4 linked regions of the Homo sapiens genome follow. The protein of the gene in region 4 interacts with the protein of the main gene of each other region in a pairwise test. Each region holds a gene or a part of one and is shown on either strand. Other genes may lie near its edges. The genes, in order: PLIN2, TIMM44, MEP1B and SFT2D2.

Region 1 (7,023 bases), on a different chromosome or scaffold from region 4:
CTGGAACCTTGGTCACCTTATTGCCCTTTCACCTAGTTTATTCACCCATTAGTTCTCAGCTTACCATTCATCTCTTCCAGAAAGCAATGTGACTCAACTACCCCCACTCCAAGGCTGCCTGAGATAGTCTTCCCATATGTTTTCTTTTTTTTTTTTTTGAGACAGAGTCTTACTCTGTTGCCCAGGCTGGAGTGCAGTAGCATGATCTCGGCTCATGGCAACCTCTGCCTCCCAGGTTCAAGCTATTCTCCTGCCTCAGCTGCCCGAGTAGCTGGGACTACAGGCACGTGCCACCATGCCTGGCTCATTTTTTGTATTTTTAGTAGAGACAGGGTTTCACCATGTTGGCCAGGATGGTCTCGATCTCCTGACCTCGTGATCTACCCGCCTCGGCCTCCCAAAGTGTTGGGATTACAGGCGTGAGCCATCGCGCCCAGCCAATAGTACCTGTATTTATGCCGTTAAACAACAACCGGACTTGGCTACTCTGAGTGTACTGCCTATGAGATAGCCCTCTTCTGCAAGGAGCATTAAAAAGGCACAAAATAGGACAGCATGGCTGGCTGTATCCCCTGTTAGTCTGTACCCATTATGAGGGCAAGGCCTGTGTTTCTCATTTAGTTGTATCTCACTTGGGGCATATGTATACTCATAGGTTGTTAGATAAAATTATTCGCTGCCTAGTTTTGCTTTTCTGCCACATAACTAGCCACCTATGTACATGGTATTGTTCAACCTTTTGATAGAGAAGAGTATTCTAAGACATAGTATGGAAAAATTGAAATGAAAAGTCTGATAAGAACTTCTTCAGCAACCAACAAATGACCGTCCCAGTCATCTTACCTCAGCACAGTGGGACTCATCAGTATCATCATATCCAATGCTCCTTTTCCACTCTACCCATGAGAGGTAGAGCTTATCCTGAGCATCCTGAATTTTCTGATTGGCACTATACACATTCTTCCTGGCAAATTCAATCTAGACACATTGAAACAAGACAAAGGAACACACAAGTCAGATATTCACGTTAGCCTGTTTGCAGATGTATGATGTAAATCAGGCAACATAAAAACTAAGAATTTCCTGGAGTTGAATAAGATCTATTCCTGCTATCATTATTATTTATTATCAATATGTGTAAATTAACCAAGCAGTAGTAGCTCTTTACTGCCTCTATTTAACTATTAAATCACTGACTCCACATTTACTTCCAGTTTAGCACAGGTAAAGCAACTAAAAAACTACAAAAAATTTTTTTTGAGTGTCACTCTGTCACCCAGGCTGAAGTACAGTGGCGCGATCACAGCTCACTGAACCTCCTTCTCGTGCCTTAGCCTACCGAGTAGCTGGGATTACAGGCATACGCCACCATGCCCAGCTAATTTTTGTATTTTTAGTAGAGACAGGATTTCACCTTGTTGGCCAGACTGGTCTCGAACTCCTGACCTCAGGTGATCCAACCACCTTGCCCTCCTAAAGTGCTGGGATTATAGGCATGAGCCACCACGCCCAGCCAGCAACTAAAATTTAATGTGTACATGAGTAAAGGATAAGTTAGCATTACAAAACAGAAAGGAATTTGACCTTCCTCTTCCCTGTTGCCAACCACTATTTCCCCTTCTAAGAAGAAATGGTTTTCTCATGGCAGTACAGAATGGTACATACTGTTCTTTAACTTGGAAACCTTTAATGGCTACACAGTAGTCTATTGTGATATATCAATTTAATTAGTCCTGTTAGTGGATGTGCATTGTTATAGTCTCTTGCAACTTTAAACAAATATACACATCTGTAAGATAAAAAGTAAAACAGCTCCAAGTGTAGGTATGCTTGTAACTTTACTAAAACTGTCTCTTGAATCAGTCCCTTAGAGCAAGAGCTGCACAAGTGTGGTTCTTTCTCTACACCGTTGCCAACAGCCACATTTCCCGTGTGGCAGGACAAGAGAGATGTCAGTATTTGACCCCTCAGAGCGAGATTAGCATTGCTTCCTATATTTCAACTAGTTATACTTCCTTTTTCTGTGAGCTGTCTCCATATTCTTTGTCCAGTTTTCTATTGGGTTGTTTGTCAACTAAGAATGAAATTCTTGGATTTTGTGATTACATTTAATTCTTGGGCCTAGAGATAAATGAACCCACTTCAGACACCTTAAAATAAAGTTTTACTCACCAGGTGAACAGTAGAATGGAGCTGAGAAATGGTCTGTTGGCTTTTTTGCTTAGCTTCTTTAACCCTGCTGAGAGCCTGCTGGTAGGCACGGGAGTGAAGCTTGGTAGACAGGGATCCCAGTCTAACATAATAACTTGGCTTCTGAACCAGATCAAATCCTTCAACTTTTTTTGCTTCTTTTTCTGAAGTTAGAAATAAGAGACAAAAAAACTTAAGGGATCACAGTGACAAGTGATAAGGCCTGGACTCTAACCTGGGTCTTGACTTTCTTACTTCTACCCAATCACTTAGCAATCATGCAGTCATTTTTCCAAGACTGCTCACGTCTGCTGCTGGACTTGACTACCCTGAACATATTACTGTATCTGATACACACTGCATGCATCTACACGTTTCTCCCACTAGAGTAAACTGCTTTTTTTTTTTTGGAAACAGGTCTTGCTTTGTTGCCCAGGCTGGAGTACAGTGGCACAATTTTGGCTCACTGCAGCCTCAACCTCCCGAGCTCAACTGATCCTCTCACCTCAGCCTCCCGAGTAGCTAGGACTCTAGGAACAAGCCACCATGCCCAGCTAATTTTTGTGTTTTTTAGGGTTTCGCCATGTTGCCCAGGCTAATCTCAAACTCCTGAACTCAAGCGATCTGCCTGTCTTAGCCTCCCAAAGTGCTGGGATTGTAGGCATGCATGCACCATTGCTCCCAGCCTAGAGTGAACTTGAGCGGCATGGTACCTGGCACACATTACCTAATGATGATTCTTTGTAAGGAGGATTTTATAAAGCAATCCATTAAAGACTATCCATTTACAGAAAATATTTTTCAAGGCCAATTTTTGCTAAGGTTTCAAAACTTACTACGTACGATTCAATGTGAACTTTATGATTGCTTTAGGAAGGAAAATCTATAGAGGCAAAAAGATTAGTGGTTGCTCACATCTGTAATCCCAGAACTTTGGGAGGTCAAGGCAGGTGGATCGTTTGAGCCCAGGAGTTCGAGATCAGCCTGGGCAACATAGTGAGATCCCATCTCTATAAAATTAAATTAAATTAAAAAGGACTGACTGCAAACAGGCATGAGGATCTTTTGGGGTAGCAGAAGTGTTCTGAAACTGGATTGCAGTGATGCTTGCACAACTGTGTAAATTTAGACTCAAGATGAGAGTATATGTCAATGAAGCTGTTTAAGAAAGATTTAATATAAAACAGTATTTCAAGATAAAATTCCAGTTACCTAGTTCTTCCTCAGTGAGAGGGAGGTACTGTTCTACCAACAGCTCTGATTTGGTGAGTGCATTTTCTACGCCACTGCTCACGAGCTGCATCATCCGACTCCCCAAGACTGTGTTAATGCTGCCACTGACCACAGACTTGGTCTTCTCCACACTGCCAGTCACTGCCCCTTTGGTCTTGTCCATCACCCCTGTGATCGTGCTGGCCACAGAATCCTTGGCCCCAGTCACAGTAGTCGTCACAGCATCTTTTGCCCCAGTCACAGCGCCTTTGGCATTGGCAACAATCTGTAAGTAGAAAAGCAGATCCCCTGGCTGGTGAGAAAAATGAGCACAAGGACATACCTAAGGTCTTAACTAAGGCAGCACAGCTGAAGAGTTAAAGAAGGAATCTAGTCCTCTCACTCTAGCTTTAGGTCTTGGGCAAGTCACTAAGAGTTGATGAGCCTGAATTTCCCTATCAAGTATATCTGCCCTACCTGCCAATCCTTGGGAATTGCAGGAGGAGCAAATGAAGTAAACAGATATGAAATTTGTCTGTTTGCCAAGGCTGCAGTGAGCTGTGATTGTGCCACTGCACTCAGCCTGGGTGACAGAGCAAGACCCTGTCTCAAAAAAAAAAAAAAAAAAAGAGAAGAGAAAAGAAAAAAAAAGAAAAGAAAAGAAGGTAAGTTATATAGCTTATTCCAAAGTCACACAAATCCAGAGAGGAAACTGAAGATCAAACTATACCTGGCCCTCGGGGTGTTATTAGTATGCAGTTATTATACATGGCAGGGCATGGTGGCTCATGCCTGTAATGCCAGCACTTTGCAAAGCTGAGTTGGTTGGATCACCTGAGGTTAGGAGTTCGAGACCAGCCTCACCAACATGGTGAAACCCCGTCTCTACTAAATACAAAAAATTAGTTGGGCGTGGTGGCACATGCCTGTAACCCCAGCTACTTGGGAGACTGAGGCAGAAGAATCACTTGAACCCCAGAGGTGGAGGTTGCAGTGAGCCAAAATTGCACCATTACACTACAGCCTGGGCAACAAGAGCAAAACTCTGTCTCAAAAACAAACAAACAATGACAAAAAAAATTAGCTGGGTGTGGCGGGGCGTGCCTGTGAACCCAGCTACTGGGGAGGCTGAAGCAGGACAATTGCTTGAACCCAGGAGGAAGAGACAGCAGTGAGCCGAGATTGTGCCACTGCACTCCAGCCTGGGTGACAGAGCAAGACTCTGTCTCAAAAAAAAAAAAAAAAAAAAAAAAAAGAACACAAGTTACCAACATTTAAAGAAAATATCCGAAATGGAAAATAACTCTCACCATTAGCACAGTCTCAAGCAATGTAAGTGAAAAATTTAAAAGATTTGCACAAGCATTCTAAAGGCTATACACTAAACCTACCTATAGTTGTGTACCACATAATATTTTGGTCAGCGATGGACCACTATTCAATGATAGTCCCATAAGATTATAATGAACTGCCCTATAACAGGTATACTTTTTTTTTTCACTGTACCTTTTCTAGTTTAGATACACGAATACTTATCATTGTGTTACAGTAGTCAGTGTAGTCATGCTGTGCAGGTTTGTAGCCTAGAAGCAAGCAACAGGCTATATACCATATAGCCTAGGTATATAGCAGGCTATACACCATATAGCCTAGGTATATAGCAGGCTATACACCATATAGCCTAGGTATATAGCAGGCTATACACCATATAGCCTAGGTATATAGCAGGCTATACACCATATAGCCTAGGTATATAGCAGGCTACACCACAAGTCCCTAACCCCCGGGCCATGGACCATTACCAGTCCATTACCAGTCCATTACCAGTCAGAGGCGGCATTAGATTCTCATAGGAGACCTAACCCTAACCCTCTTGTGAACTGTGCACGTGCATGCTCCTTATGAGAATCTAATGATAAATATAGTGCACTTGAATCATCCCAAAAACACCACCCACCCCCTGCTGGTCCATGGAAAAACTGTCTTCCATGGAACCAGTTCCTGGTGCCATAAAGCTTGGGGACCACTGGGCTCTACCATCTAGGTTGGTGTGAGTATACTCTGTGATGTTCACACAATGGCAAAATCACCTAATGTGCATTTCTCAAAATATATTCCCATCACTAAGTGACAGATGACTGTATTTAGATTATGAAAAGACACAGAGCTATATTTTTCCCTAACTGGTATCCTTTTGTGCCATTCTGTATTCTTAATTTGAAACAAAATTTTAGGACATTATCTGAACCAAAGGATCACCAGGACAGACAAGCCTATCATTTTTGTCAACACTGGCTAGCTATCCCATATGGATGGTAGTTCCTGGCAGCATTGTACAAGCCAGGTGAGAAAAGGTTATATATATCACGTCTGCATTTATTTAATACCACAAGACAATCAGTTACTTGAGACAGCAATTTCATTTATAGGAGCAAAGACACAAACTGATAGACAACACACTAAAAGTTTTCTAATCCAAAGGAGGCTAGTTCTTCTCTGCTTCGTAGATACAACTTGACAACAGTTCAGGAAGTAAGGAAGTGGCCATTATTTTTCAAACATACATCCAGATCCAGGTTGGGAAAACAAGTATTTGCCTGTTTGTGATATGTACAGCTTGTTTTAACAGATAGAAGATGAAAACATGTGAAGTGTCAAGTCTCAGCACTTTTGTCCCAAGCTCACCTGAGTTGATGGCTGATTCAGAATAGGCAGTCTCTCCTCAATCCTGTCTAGCCCCTTACAGGCATAGGTATTGGCAACTGCAACTAGAATCACAAATGGGAAAATGTTAATGTAGTACTATAGGTATAGAATGAACACACATTACCATAGGCCTTATAAAAAATGGCAATAATGGGCTGGGCACGGTGGCTCACGCCTGTAATCCCAGCACTTTGGGAGGCTGAGGCAGGCGGATCACGAGGTCAAGAGATCGAGACCATCCTGGCCAACATGGTGAAACCCCGTCTCTACTAAAAATACAAAAATTAGCTGGGCGTGATGGTGTGCGCCTGTAGTCCCAGCTACTCAGGAGGCTGAGGCAGGAGAATCGCTTGAACTCAGGAAGCAGGGGTTCCAGTGAGCCAAGATGCATCATTGCACTCCAGCCTGGGTGACAGAGCAAGACTCCATCTCAAAAAAAAAAAAAAAGGCAAGAATGTTGATCTTATACAACAGAAGGCATTGCCTGGTTTATCTAGTTCTGACAGGAAGAGGCCTGGCAAGTTGCTGGCAACTCTCTTCTAAAGGTAAGGAAATATGGGGGTGTGAGGGAGGAGCAGGCAGAGGCAGTGACAGGCCAAACAGGAAGCTGGCTCTGAAGCTTCTTCCTTATCAACTGGCCCCTAATGTTAATGCCAAGAGTAGCCGGGCTTTCCCTGAACTGTCATTCAGAGAATAAGGTATCTGGAAACTCTCTCAAAATCGGCATTCCCATGCTAGTTTAATCCCTACCTACGCTTACTTCAGCACAGGTCAGTGTATTTGGGGTCCTCAGGAGGAAAGAGTATGCCAAGACCACCCTGGATCTCCCTAACAAGGGAGATTTTAGTGTGAGCTTCCCACTAAGAATACCAAACCAAGTACTAGTACCAAATTCATTTAGGAAGTAGCAGAGTT
Region 2 (7,972 bases), on a different chromosome or scaffold from region 4:
GGCTGGGTTACAGACGTGCGCCACCATGCCCGGCTAATTTTTGTTTTTGTTTTTTTGTTTTGTTTTGTTTTGTTTGTAGAGACGCAGTTTCACCATGTTGGCTAGACTGGTCTCGAACTCCTGACCACAGATGATCCGCCCATCTCGGCCTCCCAAAGTGCAGAGATTACAGGTGTGAGCCACCGTGCCCAGCCTCGTATACTATTCTTGCAATTTTTTTTTTGTAGCTTTGAAATTTTGCAAAATAAAAAGTTGGGGAAAACAAAGCACTCTCGCTCCTTCCCATATGTTCTTCCAGCTGCCATCATTTCACCTTCTGTGCACAGTGAATATTCCTGGGAAGAGTCTGTGTTCTGTGTCCCAGTATTCTCAACCACCGCTGTGCTGGTGAAATGTTTAATAACTGGCTCACCAGAGAAACAAACCAACCAAAGAGCTCCTGACTTGGAATGTCTGCCAATTCCTGTGGTGTAAATACTCCCACCACTTGTGGCTGATCTGCTTGTAGGTGATTTCAAGCTACAAAGATGGCATCATCAAACAGAACTGGTACACAATGCAGTGACTCACATAATATAGTATTTCCAGCACGCAGACATCATATATGTAAATAACCCCAAGATAAGCCAGGTGCAGTGGCTCATGCCTGTAACCCCAGCACTTTGGGAGGCCGAGGTGGGAGGATCGAGTGAGCCCAGGGGTTTGAGACCAGCCTAGGCAACATAGCAAGACTCTGTCTCTACAAAAAGATTATTTATTTACTTATTTGAGACAGAGTCTCGCTGTGTCACTCAGGCTAGAATGCAGTGGTGCAATCTTGGCTCACTGCAACCTCTGCCTCCCAGGTTCAAGCAATTCTGCTGCCTCAGCCTCCCTTCTGAGTAGCTGGGATTACAGGCATGCACCACCACATCTGGCTAATTTTTGTATTTTTAATAGAGACGGGGTTTCACCATATTGGCTGGGCTGGTCTCAAACTCCTGGCCTAAAGTGATCCACCCACCTCGGCCTCCCAAAGTGCTGGGATTATAGGTGTGAGCCACTGCACCCAGCCTGTCTCTACAAAAAATTTTAAAAAGTAGCCAGGCTCTGTGGCTTGTGCTGGTCATCCCAGCACTTTGGGAGGTCAAGGTGGGAGGATCGCTTGAGCCCAGGAGTTCGAGATCAGCCCGTGCAACGTAGAGAGACCCTGTCTCTACAAAAAAATACAAAAATCAGCTGGGCGTGATGGTGCATGTCTGTAGTCCCAGCTACTCGGGAGGCTGAGGTGGGAGGATCACTTGAGCCTGGAAGGTCGAGGCTACAGTGAGCCGTGCTGGTGCCACTGCACTCCTATCTGGGCGATAGAGTGAGACTGTCTCAAAACAAAAACAAAAACCCTCAAGAGCACAGATAGTAGTAACATGTAGCAGCATAATTAGGAAGTGATGAATTTTGCATTATTACTTTTGTTCTAATATAATCTATTTGATCTTAAGTTTATACAATTAATTGTTTACATATTGGCCATGTTTAACAAGAGGCTTTGAATTCTTGAAGATGTGCCGGCTGGCTCTTGCGAGTCAGTGCAAGCTGGCCCCAGCATGCCTCTGTAAAACCATCTCCACTCACTGAAATCTGGCTCCCAGGCCCACCACTCACCCAAAACCCCTCTTGCTTATCTCACCAATGACCTCCATATTGCAAAATGCAATGGCGGTGGCTACATTTCTGTCCTTGCCTTGCCTGAACTGTGCAGCACTCGCCTCTGCTGTTTCCATCTGCCTTCTCCAAGTTCCTCCAGATTGTCTTCCTTTTTTTTTTTTTTTTTGATGGAGTCTTGCTCTGTCGCCCAGGCTGGAGTGCAGTGGTGTGATCTCAGCTCACTGTAACCTCCACCTCTTGGGTCCAAGCGATTCTCCTGCCTCAGCTTCCCAAGTAGTTGGGACTACAGGCACTTGCCACCACGCCCGGCTAATTTTTTGTATTTTTAGTAGAGATGGGGGTTCACCATGTTAGCCAGGATGGTCTTGATCCCCTGACCTCATGATTTGCCCATCTCGGCCTCCCACAGTGCTGAGCGCAGTGGCACACGCCTGTAATCCCAGCAATTTGGGAGGCCAAGGCAGGTGGATCACGAGGTCAGGACTCGAGACTAGCACGGCCAAGATGGTGAAACCCCGTCTCTACTAAAAATACAAAAATTATCCGGGTATGGTGGCGGGCGCCTGTAGTCCCAGCTACTCGGGAGGCTGAGGCAGGAGAATGCCATGAACCTGGGAGGTGGAGCTTGCAGTGAGCCGAGATCACGCCACTGCACTCCAGCCTGGGTGACAGACTGAGACTCAGTCTCAAAACAACGACAACAACAAAAAATTGTTTTTTAGAGATGGAGGTCTCGAGGGGGCATGGTGGCTCATGCCTGTAATCCCAGCATTTTGGGAGGCTGAGGTGGGAGGATCACCTGAGGTTCAGGAGTTCGAGACCAGCCTGACCAATATGGAGAAACCCCGTCTCTACTAAGAACACAAAATTAGCTGGGTGTGGTGGCACATGCCTGTAATCCCAGCTACTTGGGAGGCTGAGGCAGGAGAATCACTTGAACCTGGGAAGCAGAGGCTGCGGTGAGCCAAGATCGCGCCATTGCACTCCAGCCTGCGCAACAAGAGTAAAACTCCATCTCAAAAAAAAAAAGGCCGGGTGTGGTGGCTCACGCCTGTAATCCCAGCACTTTGGGAGGCCGAGGCAAGCGGATCACGAGGTCAGGAAATCGAGTCCATCCTGGCTAACATGGTGAAACCCTGTCTCTACTAAAAATACAAAAAATTAGCTGGGTGTGGTGGCAGGCACATGTAGTCCCAGCTACTCGGGAGGCTAAGGCAGGAGAATGGTGTGAACCTGGGAGGCGGAGCTTGCAGTGAGCCAAGATCGTGCCACTGCACTCCAGCCTGGGCGACAGAGTGAGACTCTGTCTCAAAACAACAAAAAAAGAGATGGAGGTCTCATGCTGTCACCCAGGGTGGAGTGCAGTGGGTGATCATAGCTCACTGCAGCCTCTAACTAATGGGCTCAAGAGATCCTCCCACCTCAGCCTCCTAAGTAGCTGGAATTCCAGGCGAGAGACACCATGCTTGGCTTATTTTTTTATTTTTGTAGAGATAGGGTCTCGTTATGTTGCCCAGACTGGTCTGTAACTCCTGGGCTCAAATGATGCTCCTGCCTCAGGCTCCTGAGTTGCTGGGATAATAGGACTGAGCCACGGATCCTGGCTTAAAGGAGTCTTCTATCTCCACTTTATCTTTGGGTCTTTGACATGCTTATATGACACACTGCCTCTGAGTGTCCAATGCTGTAGTTTTCTTTCTTTCCTTTCTCTCTCTCTCTTTCTTTCTTCTTCTTTTTTTTTGACACAAGGTCTCTCTCTGTTGCCCAGGTAGTGTAGTGTAGTGTAGTGTAGTGTAGTGGCACGATCACGGCTCACTACAGCCTTAACTTCCCGGGCCTCAACGATCCTCCCATCTCAGCCTCCTGAGTAGCTGGGACTACAAGCACATGCTACCACGCCAAGCTAATGTTTTGTATTTGTTGTAAAGAAGAGGTCTTCACTATGTTGCCCAGGCTGGTCTCAAACTCTTGGGCTGGAGAGATCCTCCCGCCTCAGTGTCCCAAAGTGCTGGGATTATAGGCATGAGCCACCGCGCCCGGCCAAACTCCGTACTTTCAACCACAACTAAGAATCCATATTTCTAGCCCAGACCTTATTCTTAGCAACACACCTGTGTACACCAACCGCTTAACTAGTTTGCTCCTCTTGGCATCAAGACATCTCGAACAAAGCCAGAGTGGAAGCCCTCATCTCTTACCCCCACCTTGAGGGGGAGCTCCTGAGATGGAGAACACAAGTCTATCCATCGCAGAAGCCAGGAATGCATGCTCTCCGGGGCCAAGCTGCCTCCCTTTGAAATAATGAAGTCCCATAAACCCATATCACAGGTTAGTAATGCAAAAAGACCGGGTGCGGTAGCTCACGCCTGTAATCCCAGTGACTCAGAGGCTGAGGCAGGAGGATCGCTTGAGCTTGGGAATTGGAGGCTGCAGTGAGCTAGATTACGACACTGCACTCTAGCCTGGGTGACAGAGCAAGCCTCTGGCTCTATAAAAAAAAAAAAGGATCCAATAAGACAAACAGCAACAGCAACATACATTAGCTCTCCCAGGGGACCAACCCTCCTCCTCATACCCGGATTGCATGGCCATGTTAAAATACCGCCACCTGGTGGCGGCATTCTTCGAATGGAAAATAGCATCTGGGGTGCTGAAATGACAAAGGCCTGAGCGTCTTCAGATCAGAGTGTCAGTTCACACTGAATCGAAGTAGGACTGGACCACAGTCAGCCCGCTCTCAGCTTCCTCTTCTTATTCGGGGTCAAAACCAACAGGCGTCTTCCCAAAGCGCCGCACAAGAGTGGGCTCCTTCGCTTTCTCGGAGCGACTCACTTGCTGGTCTCTCAGCCATTGTCAATCAATCAGTCATTGCAGGGGCAGCCATAGACAATTACTCTGGAGCTGGTCCGCCGGTCAATCAGAATCCAATCGAATCCGTCCTTGTGGTCGGTGGATCCACGTGCCTGTACCACCTGCCACCAGCGCCCGGCGCGTTCTGTAGCCGAATCACCGCAAGTGACGGAATACACGCCCCTGGGCTCCGCCCCCTCGTAGTCGCGCCCAATCACAGATCTGACCCTCCCAGGAGTGCCCTCCCCCGGGCCACATCCAGTCACGGGCCCCGTCCTTCCAAAACACTGCCCTATCAGAGGTCAAGCTCTCTAGGCATTCCCTACCCTTTTAATGCCCCGCCCTATGACGGACCCAATCGGAGGGCTCTCCCTACCCGAAACCCCGCTCCTGGAGCGGCTTTTCTCAGGCTTGCGCGGCTCTAGGCCGAAGCGGCGGATGACGCAACCGGGCCGCGCCGCGAGAAGGTCACACGATTCTCCAACATGGCGGCGGCGGCCCTGCGGAGTGGCTGGTGCCGCTGTCCACGGGTGAGCGGCGGTGCGGCGCTGGCAGGGCGAGCTTAGGGGTCTTCTGGGCCTTCGGCCACCAAGGCTTTCTTCTCAGACCCTTGGCCTTCGCGACCCTTGCTTGGGCTCCTTAGAAAGCTTGGGGTTAGATCTTTGGGTAGCAGAGGCCAGGACAGGGGGCACAGAGCGTGGCCTGAGGGCGGGGACCGAGCTTACCGGGCAGGGGGCGGCGATGCGCGGGACCTGGGAGGGAGCTGATCACCCTTCGCCCTCTGATCAGACTCCACGTATACAGGAGAGAGAATGGTAGCCGGGGCGGCGGCGTCCCGTGGAAAAAAGTAGAGGGGAAGGCAAAAAAACGTGAAATTCACAGCTCGCGGTTAAATGCCAAGTTCTCTACCGAGAGCATTTCTTGTCTCGTTTCTTCTAACGTTCATTGTGGATGTGCGAGAGGTGGTTCGCGCCCTAGCAGGCTCTTGGGTCCACAGGGCAGTGGCAGTCAAGACGTGTAAGGCGCACTCAGAAAGTAGTACTTCATATTGCTCGTGCTCTTCGTTTTTTCTTTTTTCTCTTTTTTTTTTTTTTTTGAGACAGAGTTTCGCTCTTGTCGCCCAGTCTGGAGTGCAATGGCGCGATCTCGGCTCACTGCAACTTCTGCCTCCTTCTGCCTCCGGGTTCAAGCGATTCTCCTGCCTCAGCCTCAGGTGGATCACCTGAGGTCAGGAGTTCGAGATCCACTGGCCCACATGGTGAAATCCCATCTCTACTAAAACCCCATCTGTACTAAAAATACAAAAAAATTAGCCGGGCATGGTGGCGCGCTCCTGTAATCCCAACTACTTGGGAGGCTGAGGCAGGAGAATCACTTGAACCCGGCAGGCGGAGATTGCAGTGAGCCGAGATCCTGCCACTTTACTCCAGCCTGGGCAACAGAGGGAGACTCCGTCTCAAAAAAAAAAAAAAAAGTTATCCTCAAGTAAATACAGGAGATAGTAGGCACCTGTGTAAGTTTGGGATGTTGCATAGGGTTCTCAGAGGTAGGAGGCAGAGAACAGAGAGAAAAACGGCCCAGGAAATGTGGAAATGGTGGAGAAGTTGTACCTGGTCTTTTGACATCAACACGCCAGGTTCTGTGCTGGGTGACAGGGTGCCGAGCTGAACAGGACCTGCACAGAGCTTTTTTTTTTTCCCCCAATTTTTTATGGAGGCAGGGTCTAGCTATGTTGCCCAGGCTGGTCTCAAACTCCTGAGCTCAAACGATCCTTCCGCCTCAGCCTCCCAAAGTATCGGGATTACAGGCATGAGCCACCAGCTCAGTGCCTGCACAGAACTTAAGGCAAGATCTCGGCTCACTGCACCCTCCACCTCCCGGGTTTAAGCAATACTACAGGTGTGTGGGACTACAGGTGTGTGCCACCACGCCCGGCTAATTTTTGTATTTTTGGTAGAGACGGGATTTCACCATGTTGGCCAGGCTGATCTCGAACTCCTGACCGGGTGATCCTCCCACCTCAGCCTCCCAACGTGTTGGGATTACTGGCGTGAGCCACCGCGCCCAGCCAGCAAGTGCCTTTTACATGAGATCAGCCCAGTCTTTGCCCAGAGCGACTCCCCTAAATTACTCTGTTTATAGCTCAACCCTTGAGGAGGACATTGTAGGTTTATTCCAGAGTTGTCCCTGGGGCAACACATTATCGATGTTTGTGTCTGAAAAATCCAGTTCTCTCATCTTTGGAGGCTGGCAGAAATGGGGTGGGCTCGCAAGAGAAGACTGCTTGCCACTAGCATAGAAGCTTAGAGTGCCTACTTTCAGACTAAGGGATTAAATTGTACATTTAGCCTTCTTCCCCCCATGGGTTGGCATTTCCTGGGACCTGTCCGTTTTCCCCCAGTTTCAGGGGCACGAGGATAGATGTAGGCCCTGGAGGTACAGACACAGCATTTTCTCTTTCCACCAGCTTCTGCTTGCTTCTCAGACTTTGGGAAGATTACAGAGTGCCCGGCATGCATCAGGCATAAGATACAAATTGGCCAGTGAGGCCAGGTGCAGTGGCTCATGCCTGTAATCCCAGCACTTTGGAAAACCGGGGGAGGGGTGGATCACCTGAGGTCAGGAGTTCGAGACCAGCCTGGCCAACATGGCAAAACCGCTTCTCTCCTAAAAATACAAATATTAGCCGGATGTGATGGCGCATACCTGTAATTCCAGCTACTCGGGAGACTGAGGCAGGAGAATCGCTTGAACCCAGGAGGCATAGGTTGCAGGGAGCTGAGATCGCAGCACTGCACTCTAGCCTGAGACTCCGTCTCAAAAAAAAAAAAAAAATGGCCAGTGAGTTGCAGGTGACCCTGCTGTTTTGTGTGTGGTCTGCTTACTTCTCAGTCAACCTCTTGTTAGAATGGATCTTTCTCTTCTCTCCCCCCAATTAGAGATGCCTCGGCAGTGGAATCCAATTTCTTTCCAGCCACAACCTACCCCATGGGTCGACCTATCAGATGCGCCGGCCGGGCGGAGAGCTGCCACTGGTGAGTGACTCAGGATGCTCGGGCCAGCAGACACAGGGGAGGCCCGAAAATTCAGATCCCATTGGCAGGAGGGAGGGGTGGGGCTGTAGAGGTGGCTCGTACCATCTCGGTGGTGGGCCTTCTGTGTCCGGGGCTTTCAGAATGACAGATCCCAGTGTGCCTGGCCTTCTCGGTCCCAGAAACACTTGACCTGCCTCTTGCTTGATGTCGTAAGGGGATAAGGTGCTGTCAGAATAGCCCTTTATGTTGGCTCTAATGCTTGGAAGAGACCCCTGTATTGAACTGAATTCTACTTCCCTGTGACCTCTGCCCGTGGGTACCTCACCAAGCATAGCTGTTTCCTTTTCTAGAAGATAGCCCTTTGATCATTGGTACAGAGTCACCTTGTCACAACCAGACCTCAGTTTCTCCTGGTCATTCCTCTTCAACTGTGCTTCTGTTGG
Region 3 (7,023 bases), on a different chromosome or scaffold from region 4:
TAAATACATGGCAAAAAAAAAATAGCCTAAGATATATATAAAATTAAAGCTCCCTAATCTTTCATGGAACATACTTAGGAGAATAAGTTTTTTAAAAAAAGAAATATAACTGGATGTGGTGGCTCACGCCTGTAATCCCAACACTTCGGGAGGCCGAGGTGGGTGGATTGCCTGGTGAAACCCCATCTCTACCAAAAATACAAAAAATTAGCTGGACATGGTGGCATGCATCTGTGGTCCCAGATACTTGGAAGGCTGAGGTGGGAGGATCATTTGAGCCTGGGAGGCAGAGGTTGAAGCCTGGGTGATAGAGTGAGAACTCGTCTCAAAAAAGAAAGAAGGAAGGAAGGAAGGAAGGAAGGAAGGAAGGAAGGAAGGAACGAACGAAAGGAAAAAAAGGAAGAATTAAAACAAAAGAACTTAAAAATTTTTTAATCAAAAGACTAAACCAAAAAAACATGTATATTCAAAATCTTTCAGGTTCCTAATTCCAAAAGTCAATGAACATCTTTCTCTCCTCATGCCCCCTGTGCTCTTTATGGCTTCCAACCCCGCTAACTACTCCTGCCCTGGCTTTCCCTACCCTACTGTTAGTTTTTTATCTATGTTTCTGGCCAATTCCCCCTTCTCAATAACTTCCACTAGATCTTCCTTCTATACCAGTTCCAAAAAATGGCACTGAGTTTCATTCTCGACCATCTTCTTACTTATTCAACACAACCTTCCAGGATAAATCAATAAAATCCAGTTATCTATGGAGCACCTGCTCTATGCAAGGCACTGTGTGAAATGCTCATCCATACTCACGGCTTCAACCATCTCTTACATCCTAATAACTCCCAAACATTTCTCGACCTTGAATGACCAGGTCATATACCAAGAATTTATTTGGTATCTCCACCACAGTGACTCTGATGCATTTCAAATTCTGCATGCCAAAAACTAATTTCCACCATGCTTCTCTGTCTCATGCTCCTCAAGGTTAAATTCTCCATTCTTGTTGAAGACGTTACCATGCCCTCAGCTACCCAGGACTGAATCCTGAGCACTAGAATCTCTTTCTCTACACCCACCTTCTTCTTGACCTCTTACAGTCAATCACTAAATCTAACAAATGCATCCCAAATAGCTTTTAGATTTATCTTGGTTAGGAATCTCTTAATTCTTTCTCTGAATTTCCTCAGTAGTTTTCTAACTGGTCTCCCTATCTTCTTTTTACCCCACTAATGACACATCTTCTATACTTCAACCCAAGTGATTATTTTAAACTGCAATTTTAACAATCTCACTTCCACAATAATACTTTTGGTGGCCCCATGTTATTAGTATACACGACAAGTTCTTTAACACCGGGAAGACCCAAGTCCTTCCCCATTTGCGTTCCGCCTACCTGCTCAACTTCCTAGCTCCCCACTCTCAATCTAAATTCCAGCTCAGGATTTTCTCCCTTCTTCAGGACTTAGCAGATCGTGATGCATCTGGCTAAAGCACCCTTCCCTTGCTATCAGAGGCCACACTAGCCCACATGGTGCCTGTGTGCCAATTAGGAAGAGGCACTACCTCTGAGCAGGTGCTGCAGTTGCTGGCTGGCCAGATGGGTGAACAGCACTTTCACACAAAGAAACAAATGCCTCCTGGTGAACAGAAAGAACGTAAACCTGGTATCAGCTCCACTTGTTTCCTGGCCCAGCCACCTGAGAGCAGCCTCTTGAAGCAGCTCTACATCATTAATGGCATTCTTCATTCATTTCTCTCAGTCAAAAAGTCTTGGAGAATCTGAAAGCTGAGGTGGCATGGCAGCACCAGCTCCAGGAGGTCATGTCAGTTGTACGGTGTACAACTTACACAGTCTTCATGGCAGTCCTGCTATATAGCGTCCTCTGCTTATAATGCATATGCTTTTCTATCCAGGTTGAGTTTACTGCCCCTCCAATGTGCTCCCATAGCTCTTTGAACACATCACTAATCATAATGTTTATTCCATTCTATCATAATTCACTTTTGATTTATGTGAGTCTCCACTGAAATGCATGATCTTTAAGAAAAATAGCAGGGTTTCCAAATACCATATGTTTTCCCATAAGTGGGAGCTAAATATTGCATAGACATGGATGTAAAGATGAGAACAAAAGACACTGGGGACTACAAGAGGGGAAAGGGAGGGAGAAAAGGGTTGAAGAAGCCACCTATTGGGTGCTATGCTCAACTCCTGGGTGATGGGTTCATTTGTACCCCTAACTTCAGCATCATGCAACACACCCATGTAACAAACCTGCACACGTACCCACTGAATCTAAAATAAAAGTTGAAATTTTAAAAAACTATAACAGGCTGGGTGCAGTGGCTCATACCTGTAATCCCAGCACTTTGGGAAGCCAAGGCAGGCAGATCACTTGAGGCCAGGAATTCGAGACCAGCCTGTACGACATGGTGAAAGCCCATCTCTACTAAAAATACAAAAATTAGCCAGGTGTGCTAGCACATGCCTATAATCTCAGCTACTCGGGAAGCTGAGGCAGGAGAATCGCCAAAACCTGGGAGGTAGAAGCTGCAGTGAGCCGAGATTATGCCACTGCACTCCAGCCTGAGATTGTGCCACTGCATTCCAGAGCAAGACTCTGTCTCAAAACAAAAAAAAAAAAACAAAAATGAAAAATAAAATTAAAAATTAAAAAACTATAGCAGGGTTTTTACTCAAACTTTTCCCAAACAGCAATTTCTAAGCTAATGCTGGTCAGTGGCATCATTGCCACTAGTCCATAGATTAAAATGAAGACCATGTTTAGAGTTTTCCAACATATTTAAATTTCTTCTATAGAAAAGCTGTTCTTAGTTTTGGATTTGATTCTTCTGACTTTTTAACATTTTAATACTACACTAATAACATTATTTACTGTATGAAAAGAGGATGATGAAAGCTCTTTTATCATGTTAGGTTGTTGTTTAAGTTCCTGACCTGGCAAAATAAAATGTTGATAAAACAATGCCAGTTCCTCAAATTTAGTTGGTTATTTTATGTATTTTCTCATATGTATAATTGATCATAGGGTAAACCACTGCTTTAAAATAAAGACTGGCTCCCTGTGAGCCCATCAATCAGGCCCTGCACCTGTTTAACCAAGTGTAGGGAGCAGTGCACGTGGAGATCTGAGCCTGCCTGCGCCTCCTTGCCCGCCTCCACTACATCATGGGCAAGTACGCAGAGGCCCTGAGAAGCCAGCAGAAGGCAGTGCTGATGAGCGTGCGGGTGATGGGCATCGAGCACCCCAACACCATCCAGGAAAACATGCACCTGGCCCTGCACTGCTTCACCAGCAGGCAGCTGTCCCTGGCCCTCAGCCTGCTGCAGGGCGCCCACTACCTCATGCGCTGGTGCTTGGGGAAGACACCCCGAGGTGGCGTGCTGGACAACATCAGGCGGGTGCTGCACAGGGTGATGGAGTACGACCTGTCGCTGTGCTTCCTGGACAACGCGCTGGCCGTCAGCACCAAGTACCAAGGGCCCAAAGCTCTCAAGGTGGCCCTTGGCCACCACCTCATCACCTCGGTCTATGAGAGCAAAGCTGAGTTTCCGGTCGGCCCTGCAGCACCAGAAGGAAGGGCTGGCTGCACACCCTCTGTAAGACCCAGCTGGGCGAGGACCAGGAGAAGACCAAGGAGAGCTCTGAGTACCTCAAGTGCCTGACCCAGCTGGCCGTGGCCCTGCGGCGCGCCATGCATGAGATCTACCGCAACGGCTCCAGCAACAACATCCCGCCCCTCAACTTCACAGCCCCCAGCATGGCCAGCGTCTTGGAGCAGTTCAAAGGCATCAATGGCATCCTCTTCATTCCTCTCAGCCAAAAAGACTTGGAGAGTCTGAAAGCCGAGGTGGCGCAGTGACACCAGCTCCAGAAGGCCAGCAGAAACAGGGATGAGGCCAAGGAGCCCAAGGCCACCGAGCCCGAGCCAGCGGGGGCACCAGAGGACCTGGGTTCCCAGCCCCGGGCTGCCAATGACCCTTCTTCCCCGAACTTGCAGGGATAGAGAGGGACAGGCAGATGGACAGTCAGTCAGTGGCCTCACTCACCAGGGATCCAGACTCTAGGAGAAAGGAGCATACCTGCCATGGGAAGAGGAAGCAAGGCCCTCTTCTTCCATGTTTCACCCTCACTGCACCCCCAGCAGAGCATCCTCCTGGGACCCTGGCCTGGCCTGTCTGCTCTCCAAAAGATGTTTTTGCACTGGTTCAATGAATATATGATGCAGAGCCCCTCCCCCACAAAAAAAGACTGGCTCCCTAATCGTTATGTCCCTAGCATAACAGAGTAGGCTCTCCATAAACGTTGGTTGAACTCATTGCTTTGTTGGTCAAGACACTGTAAATATTTCAGACAGAGTCATTTAGGTTACTTTCATTGTTCGTTTTGCTTATTTTTTTTTTCAAAGTAAATGTACATAGCCACACAAAGGAGCAAACCAAACAAAACCTTAAAGACTATATAAGCCCACCCTTTGAAACACTATAATCATATTTTGTCAGAAATAGACATTAGTTATGGATACTTCAAGGTGCATACTAACCCAAGCTATCTTCTAGAACATATGGAATGGTATGAGGCCATCTATACTTTTCTCCAATGATGGAATTTCTAATTTGTGCCTGTCAAAAATAAATGCAAAAGGGCTAGTTAAACAAATAAGGCAAACACTTAGGAAACCTGTAGTTAATCTAGAAATAAATGAAGTTTAAAGCTCTCCCAGTTCGCACAAACAAATTGTGTGTGTGTGTGTGTGTGTGTGTGTAGCCCTACTTTTATCATAATATAACAAAGTTTCTAGGAAGAAATTACTAATTTCTATCATTTTGTTAATACAGTTGAAGAAGGAATAATGCAAAAAATAACTGTTGGAAAACTGAACTACAAATATTGGTAGATTTATAGGTTAGTTTCCTACACTTAAAGATTAAAAATTTGCAAGAAAACAGTGATAGCAAGACCTTGATAATCTGGATCTCACAATATCAGAAAAAGTCACACATGAGCTGGGCCAAAGTTTTCAAAAATTTTTAAAGGATTTTAAACTGTATAATAGAAAATGAGTAATATTTTACTAATGTATTTACTCAGTCCACAAATTGAATATTGTCCTAGAGAATAGAGATTCCTTGGTAATAAAGGTCTCTGGCTTCATGGAGCTTATATCTAGTGGAGGACAGAAAGAGTATGTAAAAAAAAAAATGTTTAAGCAGGATGAATGCAATAGGGAGGAAATTAGAAAGAGAGATGTGAACAAGGGCACAGGGATGACGGAGTACATGAGATGGAGTGATCAGGACAGTCGTCTATGAAGGGATGATATTTAAGGGGAAATAGGGATCGCAAGACAGAGCCAGCATTGAAAGGGGTCCTGGGAAGGTGGTTTCAGGCAGAGGGAACATTAGTTGTTCTTGTTCTGAGGTGGGAATATGCCTGGGATGTTTTGAATATGTGTTGAGACCAGTAGCCTGATGAGTCTAAGAGAGAACGTGGATGAGATAAGAGGAGAGGAAAAGAGAGGAGAGGGGAGGGAAGAGGGGAGGACAGAAGCAGGAGCTAAGGCATGCTAGGCTTAGACAGCTGGGACTAAATCGGGAGATGATTCTAAACCCATAGGCAACTATGGAAGAGTTTCAAGCCAGGAGGTGAAATGAAGTCACTGCCTGTTTGAAAAATGACTTTGCTGTGAGAGATAAGGACAAGTAACAGGGTGGAAAAGATTATAGGGGAACAATATCTGAAATAGAAAGACAAATTAGGAGGCTAATGGAAAAAGCCAGGCAAGAGATGATGGGGCCTGAATTAGAGTGATGGAGAAAAGTGGACGATTTGCAGTGTATGTTAGAGCTAGAAATGATAGAACTTGCTGACGGGCTGGATGGGGAGTGAAGGAGAGAGGAGAAGCAAAGGTGGCGCTCAAGGTTTTTATGTGTTCAGTTGAGTAGAGTCAGGTTGTGAGGATGACTTTATGAAGACAGGAGAGTGGGGAGGAACAGTTTGGGGGGAAGGTCAGAGTTCACCTGATCAGAGGACACCTTAGGTTTGAGACGTCTTGTAGACATTCAAGTGGAGCTGGCAAATTAGTGCTTGGATAGACCAGTCTGGAGCTCAGGGAAAGGAGAGGACCAGAGATATGCCTTTGGATTCATTGGCATGGAGATGACATTTGAATCCCTGGACGAAGGTGAGATCAAGAGAGAGCACAGATAGAAGAGTAGGCTCAGGACTAAGCCTGGGAGACTGCAGCTCTGTTTCCTGGGGGTGGGAGGACTGTGAGGGATGTTGGTGCTTACGATATAGGAAGTAAGGGAGTGACTTAGGACTGTGTTGGAAGGAAGAGCAGAATTTTACAGGAAAAGATCTACTGGGTAATTTCTAGGCCACATGGTGTATATATTTTAAACTATGCTAGCTCTTCTCAAATTGCCTTCTTTCTTTTTTTCAAATTTATACACTCTCCAGTATAATAACATGTTCTAAACACATTCCTAAACAAGCATCCTAGTTTCTCTCTATCATCACCAAAAGGGATAGTAAGTAGTAAGTTTCTTAATATTTTTCAATCTAGTGGGCAATAAACTATATCTTGTCTTTTGAAAAATAGTGCTTATTTCCATGCTGTGAGAGAACACTGAAAAAAACAGTGCTTTCATGATAGTGAACTTTTTAGTCCCCCTAATCTACCTGCAAGGTTCTTGTGTTTATCTGTGTGGCATGATGACTTAGATGAGAATCAGCACTCTTTATGAATAGGTTTGGGAGGGTCTTAACTTGGCAACATTATTTTTAGCTAAGGCCAGGGTAGAAGTCACAAAATCTATTTATTGGGGTAAAAAGCCTGATTCATTGAAGATGTTTACAAATTCAGTTTAATTTTGCCTCCACTAGATTGAATCTGTGAGGTCCTATTTTAAAATCAAATGTCATATTGCTCCAATAATGAAAATCAATCAAATCAATAAGACTAAGACATATGTAATGAGTTATGGTGGCTTGAACCACA
Region 4 (7,023 bases):
GTAGAAGCAGACTCACTCTATGCAGGACCACGGTGATGGCTTCCATGCTGAGGGACAAGTGGACCCCAAAACTCTGTCCCTTACTGTTGCTCCCGTGATCTCTGATGGGGCTGCCTTTTGCCACCTGGGAATCACTTGCACCCAAGGCTTATGTGCTGTTGCTGAATAGGTTTGTATTCATGGGAATTCAGTGGGACAACATCCAGAGAGGAAACAGGTACATGAGGAAGATTCCACTCCACAAGATACAGAACCCACTTCTCATCCTGTGCTACTGACATTCAGGTTCGAGAATGTATTGTTGCTTCCAAAAGTAACCCTCAAATGTTCGAATCACAAGCAACACATTGCTGCAAGATAAAAGGCACATGTCTGTAAGACAGAGGTTTCGAAGATAGTTACAAAACTGTCCACCAGCTTCTGTCCATAGTGCCTTCCAAAGCTTCATAAAACTGGCCATGAATTATGCAAGACACACGGCAAAACACTTCTTCACAGCATCCCTAGGAAAGAAAAGACACAAAGATGAGTGGAACGTCATCACCCCAAAGGCACTCCTTTAGAGGGCACCCAGAGTGGAAGCTGCAGAGTAGAAAGCACCTAGACTGAAAGATCAGACCTTCACAGCATCAAACTGCAGCTTCAACATTTATTAGTAGTACTATCCTGGGAAAGTTCCTTGTCCTGTTTGAGTTTCAAATTCCTCATCTGTAAGAGGGGATGTCCCCACTTACCCGACAGTCTGATTATGGGATTAGCCATCATAATCAGAGAAAAAGATAACATAGACTGTCAGAAACTAAGAAATCAGTCAGGATTGCTGCACTTTAATATCGGTCAAAATCACAGAATGCACTGACAGCATTAAATCAAATATTAACTGGGACCTTTCTTCATTCTAAGCAGGCAGCAGAAGGGAGCTCACTATGGGTCCTGAGCACTTATTAATATGCTATAATGGCCTTATCACAGGTATTTACTGCTTGGAATTCAGTGTAGAGGGTGCAAGGAAGAGTTGGTCTTCAAGAAATTACTATTCTACCCAAGCAAGCACTTCCATTTCCACCACCACACCACACTGTGCAATGTGGCACTAGGCTTCTCATACCCCAGCTCTGTTCCACGTTCTCAACTGTGCTGCACTAAGGACATTGGGAGTCACATAAGGGAGGGAGAGGTGAATGGATGCATTTCCATGAGTAGGCACTGCATTTTAATATCAAGATGGTTCCAGGGCAGCATTTCTTGAGATATACTCTGCACTGTAGTCTCAGAAGAGTCTCTGCACAAGAAGGGTTTTATGGCCACATAAGTCCCCCTCATGGCAGCTCACAATACACATAGCATATGGAAGGATCTAGCAAGCCAGGCAAAGAGGAACCTACCTAATTTTGCTTAACCTGTTTCTCAAACTTACTTGATCATAGAACTCTTTTCTTCCACAGAAACACTATTTCTGTGGAACACTGTGGGAAAAGCTATTCCAGGGGAACTTACAAATAGAAGGGTGGGGCCAGGCATGGTGGTTCGGACCTGTAAACCCAGCACTTTGGGAGGCCGAGGTGGGCCAATCACTTGAGGTCAGGAGTTCGAGACCAGCCTGGCCAACACGGTGAAACCCCATCTCTACTAAAAATACAAAAAATGAGCCTGGCATGGTGGCGTGCACATGGAGGCTGAGGCAGGAGAACAGCTTGAAGCCAGGAGGTTGGAGACTGAGGTGAGCTGACATCGGGCCACTGCACTCCAGCCTGGGCCATAGAGTGAGACTCCATCTCAAAAAAAAAAAAAAAAAAAAGAATAGAAGGGTGGGATCTAGCTCTGTGATTCCCTCCCTACTAGAGGAGTAATTCGTCTCCTCAGCACATGAAACTCACTATCTCAAATAAAATTCCCTCATTCTATCAATCACTTGTACATAAATTTTATACATGCCAATCCAGATCAAGACTGAAGCTCTGACAAATGACTCCAAGCAAGTTTCACGAATGAGACCTGTGCAACTGCATTGGCCCCATACTCAGAAGGGTCCACATTGGGTTTAATGCCTTGATTTGATGTTGCCATCTTGAAATTCTTAATCTTTTTTTTTGAGACAGAGTCTCCCTCTGTTGCCCAGGCTGGAGGGCAATGGCGTGATCTCGGCTCAGTGCAACCTCCGCCTCCCAGGTTCAAGCGATTCTACTGCCTCAGCCTCCTGAGTAGCTGGGATTACAGGTGCACGCCACCACGCTCGGTTAATTTTGGTATTTTTAGTAAAGACAGGAGTTCACCACGTTGGTCAAGCTGGTCTTGAACTCCTGACCTCGTGATCCGCACACCTCAGCCTCCCAATGTGCTGGGATTATAGGCTGAGCTACCGTGCCCGGCCTATGATTTTTGAACAAGAAGCTCACATTTTTATTTTGCACTGGGCCCTGAAAACTATGCAGCTGGTTCAGGGACCAAAAAATATTCATATGTTGGCAGGTTGATCAATATCTCATTGGATCCTCAGTAATGATGAACTCCGGTTTACTTCACATAAAAATCTAGCTTCCCAGGACATCCCTGCCCATATTCTTCTCAGACAAGCCACCAGGCCCCAAAACCAGCCAGGTCTGCATGGAGTATTTCATAACTGTTACCCTCCTAGAATCTATCAACAAAGCCACTCAGCTGCCTTTCACTTGAAAGGCTTAACTTCGCATCCAATCAATCACTCCTCAATACTTTCAAATCACTGTCAGCAACAGTCTTGGAATTTGTTAAGACATAAGATTGCTCTTCCTCCTTCCCAAGTCATGCATAATTTTTCATTTCCTCAGTACTTTTTTTTTTTTTTTTTTTGAGACAGAGTCTCGCTCTGTCGCCCAGGCTGGAGTGCAGTGGCGCCATCTCGACTCACTGCAAGCTCCGCCTCCTGGGTTCACGCCATTCTCCTGCCTCAGCCTCCCAAGTAGCTTCGACTACAGGCGCCTGCCACCACGCCCAGCTAATATTTTGTATTTTCAGTAGAGACGGGGTTTCACTGTGTTAGCCAGGATGGTCTCGATCTCCTGACAGCAGGATCCACCCGCCTCGGCCTCCCAAAGTGCTGGGATTACAGGCGTGAGCCACTGCACCTGGCCCAGTACAGTTTTTTTAAAAAGCTTGTTTTTAATTAACAGGTAATGATAAAAAAAAAAAAAAAAGAACAGAAGTTAAATAGTTGCATTAGAACAAAGTCAGAGGCAAAGATCATGCGGCTAATTTTGAGAGGTCCGTCACTGAAAGTGCTTAAAGAGGTATGGAGTATTAGAATTTCAGAGCTAAAAGAGGCCTCTGGAGATGATCTAGACCAACTCAGTCTACTTATCGATGCTTTGAGGCCAGAGGGGTCAAGAGAGCTGCTCGAGGTCACACTGCTAATTAGGAAGCCCTGGTACTGCTTACTCTCCCTTTATAAACTCTTGTGAAACCTTCCCAGCAGTGGGATACTGCAAGAAGCACGAATTGAGATCCCTCCATATCTTACTCAGTGATATGAAATGACATTCACCTTTATAAAAAAAAAAAAAAAAAAAACCCTACTCAAAGCTACGGGTTAAAAGAGTAATAATGTGCATATATGCACCATATATAAGAGTAGAATGTTCACAGCATTGGAAATCAGTGTACCTGGGTAAATATCCATCATTAGTTGTATAATTAGAGTGGGTGGTGGGGTGACCTTTAACTTACTTATCTATAAATGAGATGTATAGTATTTGTCTACTTGACTCAAAAGACTTCAGTAAAGATAAATAAAATAGGCTATACTCTCTGAAAGCAGACTCTGAATTAAAATGACAGAAATCATTATTTCCAAATACACAGTCTTACCTTGCAAATGGTATGAAGGAAAGGCTGTACCTATAATGAAAAACAAAACAAAGGGTCAAATGAGATGAAGGGAGTAGCAGATTATCCAGCAGAATGGGCTTCTGAGCTGTAAGAATACCTGCAGTGATCTATCCAGACCCTCTCCCATACTCAGCCTGGGGGATGAGCATGTGCACACAAAGGCCCACGCATGTGCATGCACGTGTACCCAAACACACACACTATGGCCATGTACAGATAGGCAGCCACAGAAGAAGGGCAAAAGGTTCATGTGGAGATAACCCGTATGACCTCGGCCTCAATGCAGTACTGCTATAACCTTGAACTAGCAACAATCACCTTAAACAGTCAGATTTCAAATACCCAGATGGCACAGAAACTCTATTCTGAAAAAATATCAAATAAAACCCAGAACAGTTGAACCGCACCCCCCTCCTTTATTTATTTATTTATTTTTTTTTTTGAGACAGGGTCGTGCTCGTCACCTAGGCTGCTGGAATATAGTGGCTCAATCATAGCTCACTGCAGCCTTGAATTTCTAGGCTCAAGTCTAGGAAGCTCAAGCAATCCCCCTGCCTCAGCCTCCAGAATTGCTGGGACTACAAGTATGTGCCACCATGCCCGGCTAATTTTTTAATGTTTTTTTTTGTTTGTTTGTTTGTTTTTTTGCAGAGACCCGGTCTTGCTACACTGTCCAGGCTAGTCTCAAACTCCTGGCTTCAAGCAATCCTCCCACCTCAGCCTCCCAAAGTCTTGGCATTACAGTGTGAGCCACCCATACCTGGCACAGTTGAACTCCTAACATTTTATAAATTCTAAACAGAATTTAACTTCTACCTAATTGGGATAAATTTTCTGCTCTGCTCCTATTAATTTTAAAAGAAGAGAAAAGAGAATAAAAAAGAAGAAGAAAAAAATGCTACCAACTACTCTATGAGTGAAAATGTAGTACGTCCAAAGGTATCTTGGTAAATTCCAGTTAGCTCAGCCCTGTCACTTAGAAGGAAACCATATACAAGGAACAGGCTCCATAATGCTAAAGAACCAGGCACTGTGTGTCAGGCAGACTGTAAGTTAGCCCTTAGAAAAGCAAACACAGTCAGAACACATGAGTGTTGAAGGGAATATCACCATTCAGCTGGACCCATATGAATGCTGAACCTCTGAAACTGGATTCAAAATCAGTCTATAAGCAAAGCAAGGTGTGTGTATATAGGTACCAATTTCTGCCCTGGAAGAAAAATCAAAATATAAACAGTCTACCACTCAAATGTGCATGTCATTTAAAAAAAAAAAAAACATACACACACACACACACATAAACACAAACACCAGCATCCTTCTCCATATCTTATACTTAACATGTACAGAAGCTCAATTACTTGTCAACACAGTAAATTCCAAAAGGCAATTTGTAACTATATTTATTCAAAAGTCCAAAATTGCTAAAGGGAGGGATGGGAGTTAAGCTTACAGTCTCAAGATTCATTTCTACCAAATAGGAGTTAACCAATTCTTCAGAACTTTAAAATGTCCACAATCCTCCTTTCTTTACACTGTAGCAAACATTTTTTTCAAAAATAGGTGAGTCACATCTATACTGAAACTGTTCTGGCAGATACCATCCCTTGATAAACTTTGAAAGAACTACAGAAATGTCTTGGAACCTACAGATTCCAACTATGCCACCACCCCTCTCACTCTGAGGTCGTATAGGCTTGAAAGGACCATGAACCTACAGCCCCACTCATGGTTTCCCAAAATGTCTCCAGCGGCCCTTTTACTATACTTGGCTCTGGAGTTACAATTTCCTACTCTTCAGCTGAATTACCAAAAGCCAACAAGCCTCTGAGCACATACGCTGATCCTACAGCCCACAGACACACGTTTTTCCATTTCGTCAGTGACTGTTCCTCATCTCCTGCTGACAGTTCACTCTTTGTCCTTCTGTTAAATGATTCATTCTATCACAAATGTAACATTCATTATTTTTCTTACCACTTTCCTTTTTTGTTAACCTCTATTGGACTCACAAGCCTTTTTAACATCCCTTATAATACTTTTGTTGTCCTTGCACTTACCGGACATGAGTGGCTTAATAATATTTGTAACATCTCAAAAATCAACCATTAGTTCAGCAAAAATGCCACAGCAGGCAAACAAGGAGCCTCCTGTGACCACTCAAGACCACTAATGCCATCTATTGGCAGTGGGCTGGGTTGATAGGCATTTGCTCTGGAGCCTGACTTCACTTTCATCATTACGAATCCTTAAATTAAACAGCTTCTGTGTTTTCTTAATTCTCCCACCCACAATATGTGAGTTTTATCTCCTTTGGCTACATTATTCAGTGGGCTATGTGGGAGGGGATTGTTTAAAAGGTTACTTACCACGTCAATGCCAAAGACTGCAAAATGCAGAAGATAAGTGCAAGTCCCTTGTTATGCCACTGGAAAAATAATAATATGGTTATAGGAGAGTGTGAGACAAGGGGCAAAAGCCAAAATGGTTAAGAAAAATTAAAATATACATTTACCCAAAAGGCAGAACACAGGGTAAGTGCAAAACACAACTAAAGGAAGAAAGGAAACATTAATTAATGACAATAACATGGCAGGAAAAAAAAAACTCAAAACTTGTTATTCTTCACAAATGCACAAAACTTATGCATCCTTCATCTCAAAGCAGTTAACCCACCTGAGCACCCATATTTGGCAGAATAGTTAAAAATCTCCATGAAATCAAACTAGCCAATAAAGATTCACATAGATAAGATGTTCTTTTACTTTCAAGTTTTCCCAGAACCTCTGCCCAGCAAACAAATCACATTTCAGGCCCACCCATTCATCCGTCCATCCATCTTTTCATTCAAATGCACTAAAGTAAGCTTAACACAAATCTTTCTATTTTAACTCCTACCAAATGCTAGTCTCTGCAGCAGAAAGCACATGTGAGGACAAAGGTTAACCTGAGATATCAATCTCACAGTCAGCATGCCAGTTACTTGTGTACCTATCACCTAACACTTTCCCTAAGGCCATTCTTAGAAAGCTCTTTCTGCAAGAGACTTGTCCAGGCCGTGGGCATCTGAGGCTGGCCAAGGACAACTGGTGCTAGAGCAGTCAGCCATGCCTTTCTTCGCCATCCTTCTATAACAATAACTACTCAAATATGTCCTAA

Evidence for each region.
Region 1: the proteins of SFT2D2 (region 4) and PLIN2 interact in binary tests that used the Homo sapiens proteins (3 or more experiments, as listed by UniProt).
Region 2: the proteins of SFT2D2 (region 4) and TIMM44 interact in binary tests that used the Homo sapiens proteins (3 or more experiments, as listed by UniProt).
Region 3: the proteins of SFT2D2 (region 4) and MEP1B interact in a protein complementation assay, tested with the Homo sapiens proteins (one study listed by IntAct).

The regions. Positions count from the first base shown.
Region 1 is NC_000009.12:19,117,478-19,124,500, forward strand, and holds part of PLIN2 (perilipin-2), read right to left. Parts: intron 6,171-7,023; coding exon 6,088-6,170; intron 3,689-6,087; coding exon 3,403-3,688; intron 2,355-3,402; coding exon 2,173-2,354; intron 979-2,172; coding exon 844-978; intron 1-843. UniProt on the Homo sapiens protein: Structural component of lipid droplets, which is required for the formation and maintenance of lipid storage droplets.
Region 2 is NC_000019.10:7,940,659-7,948,630, reverse strand, and holds the start of TIMM44 (mitochondrial import inner membrane translocase subunit TIM44), read left to right. Parts: upstream 1-4,964; 5' UTR 4,965-4,979; coding exon 4,980-5,024; intron 5,025-7,433; coding exon 7,434-7,529; intron 7,530-7,972. UniProt on the Homo sapiens protein: Essential component of the PAM complex, a complex required for the translocation of transit peptide-containing proteins from the inner membrane into the mitochondrial matrix in an ATP-dependent manner.
Region 3 is NC_000018.10:32,193,026-32,200,048, reverse strand, and holds part of MEP1B (meprin A subunit beta isoform 1 precursor), read right to left. Parts: intron 4,643-7,023; coding exon 4,564-4,642; intron 4,223-4,563; exon of another isoform or gene 3,082-4,222; intron 1-3,081. UniProt on the Homo sapiens protein: Membrane metallopeptidase that sheds many membrane-bound proteins. Exhibits a strong preference for acidic amino acids at the P1' position. Known substrates include: FGF19, VGFA, IL1B, IL18, procollagen I and III, E-cadherin, KLK7, gastrin, ADAM10, tenascin-C.
Region 4 is NC_000001.11:168,235,981-168,243,003, reverse strand, and holds part of SFT2D2 (vesicle transport protein SFT2B), read right to left. Parts: intron 6,416-7,023; coding exon 6,380-6,415; intron 6,293-6,379; coding exon 6,234-6,292; intron 3,874-6,233; coding exon 3,844-3,873; intron 504-3,843; coding exon 464-503; 3' UTR 1-463. UniProt on the Homo sapiens protein: May be involved in fusion of retrograde transport vesicles derived from an endocytic compartment with the Golgi complex.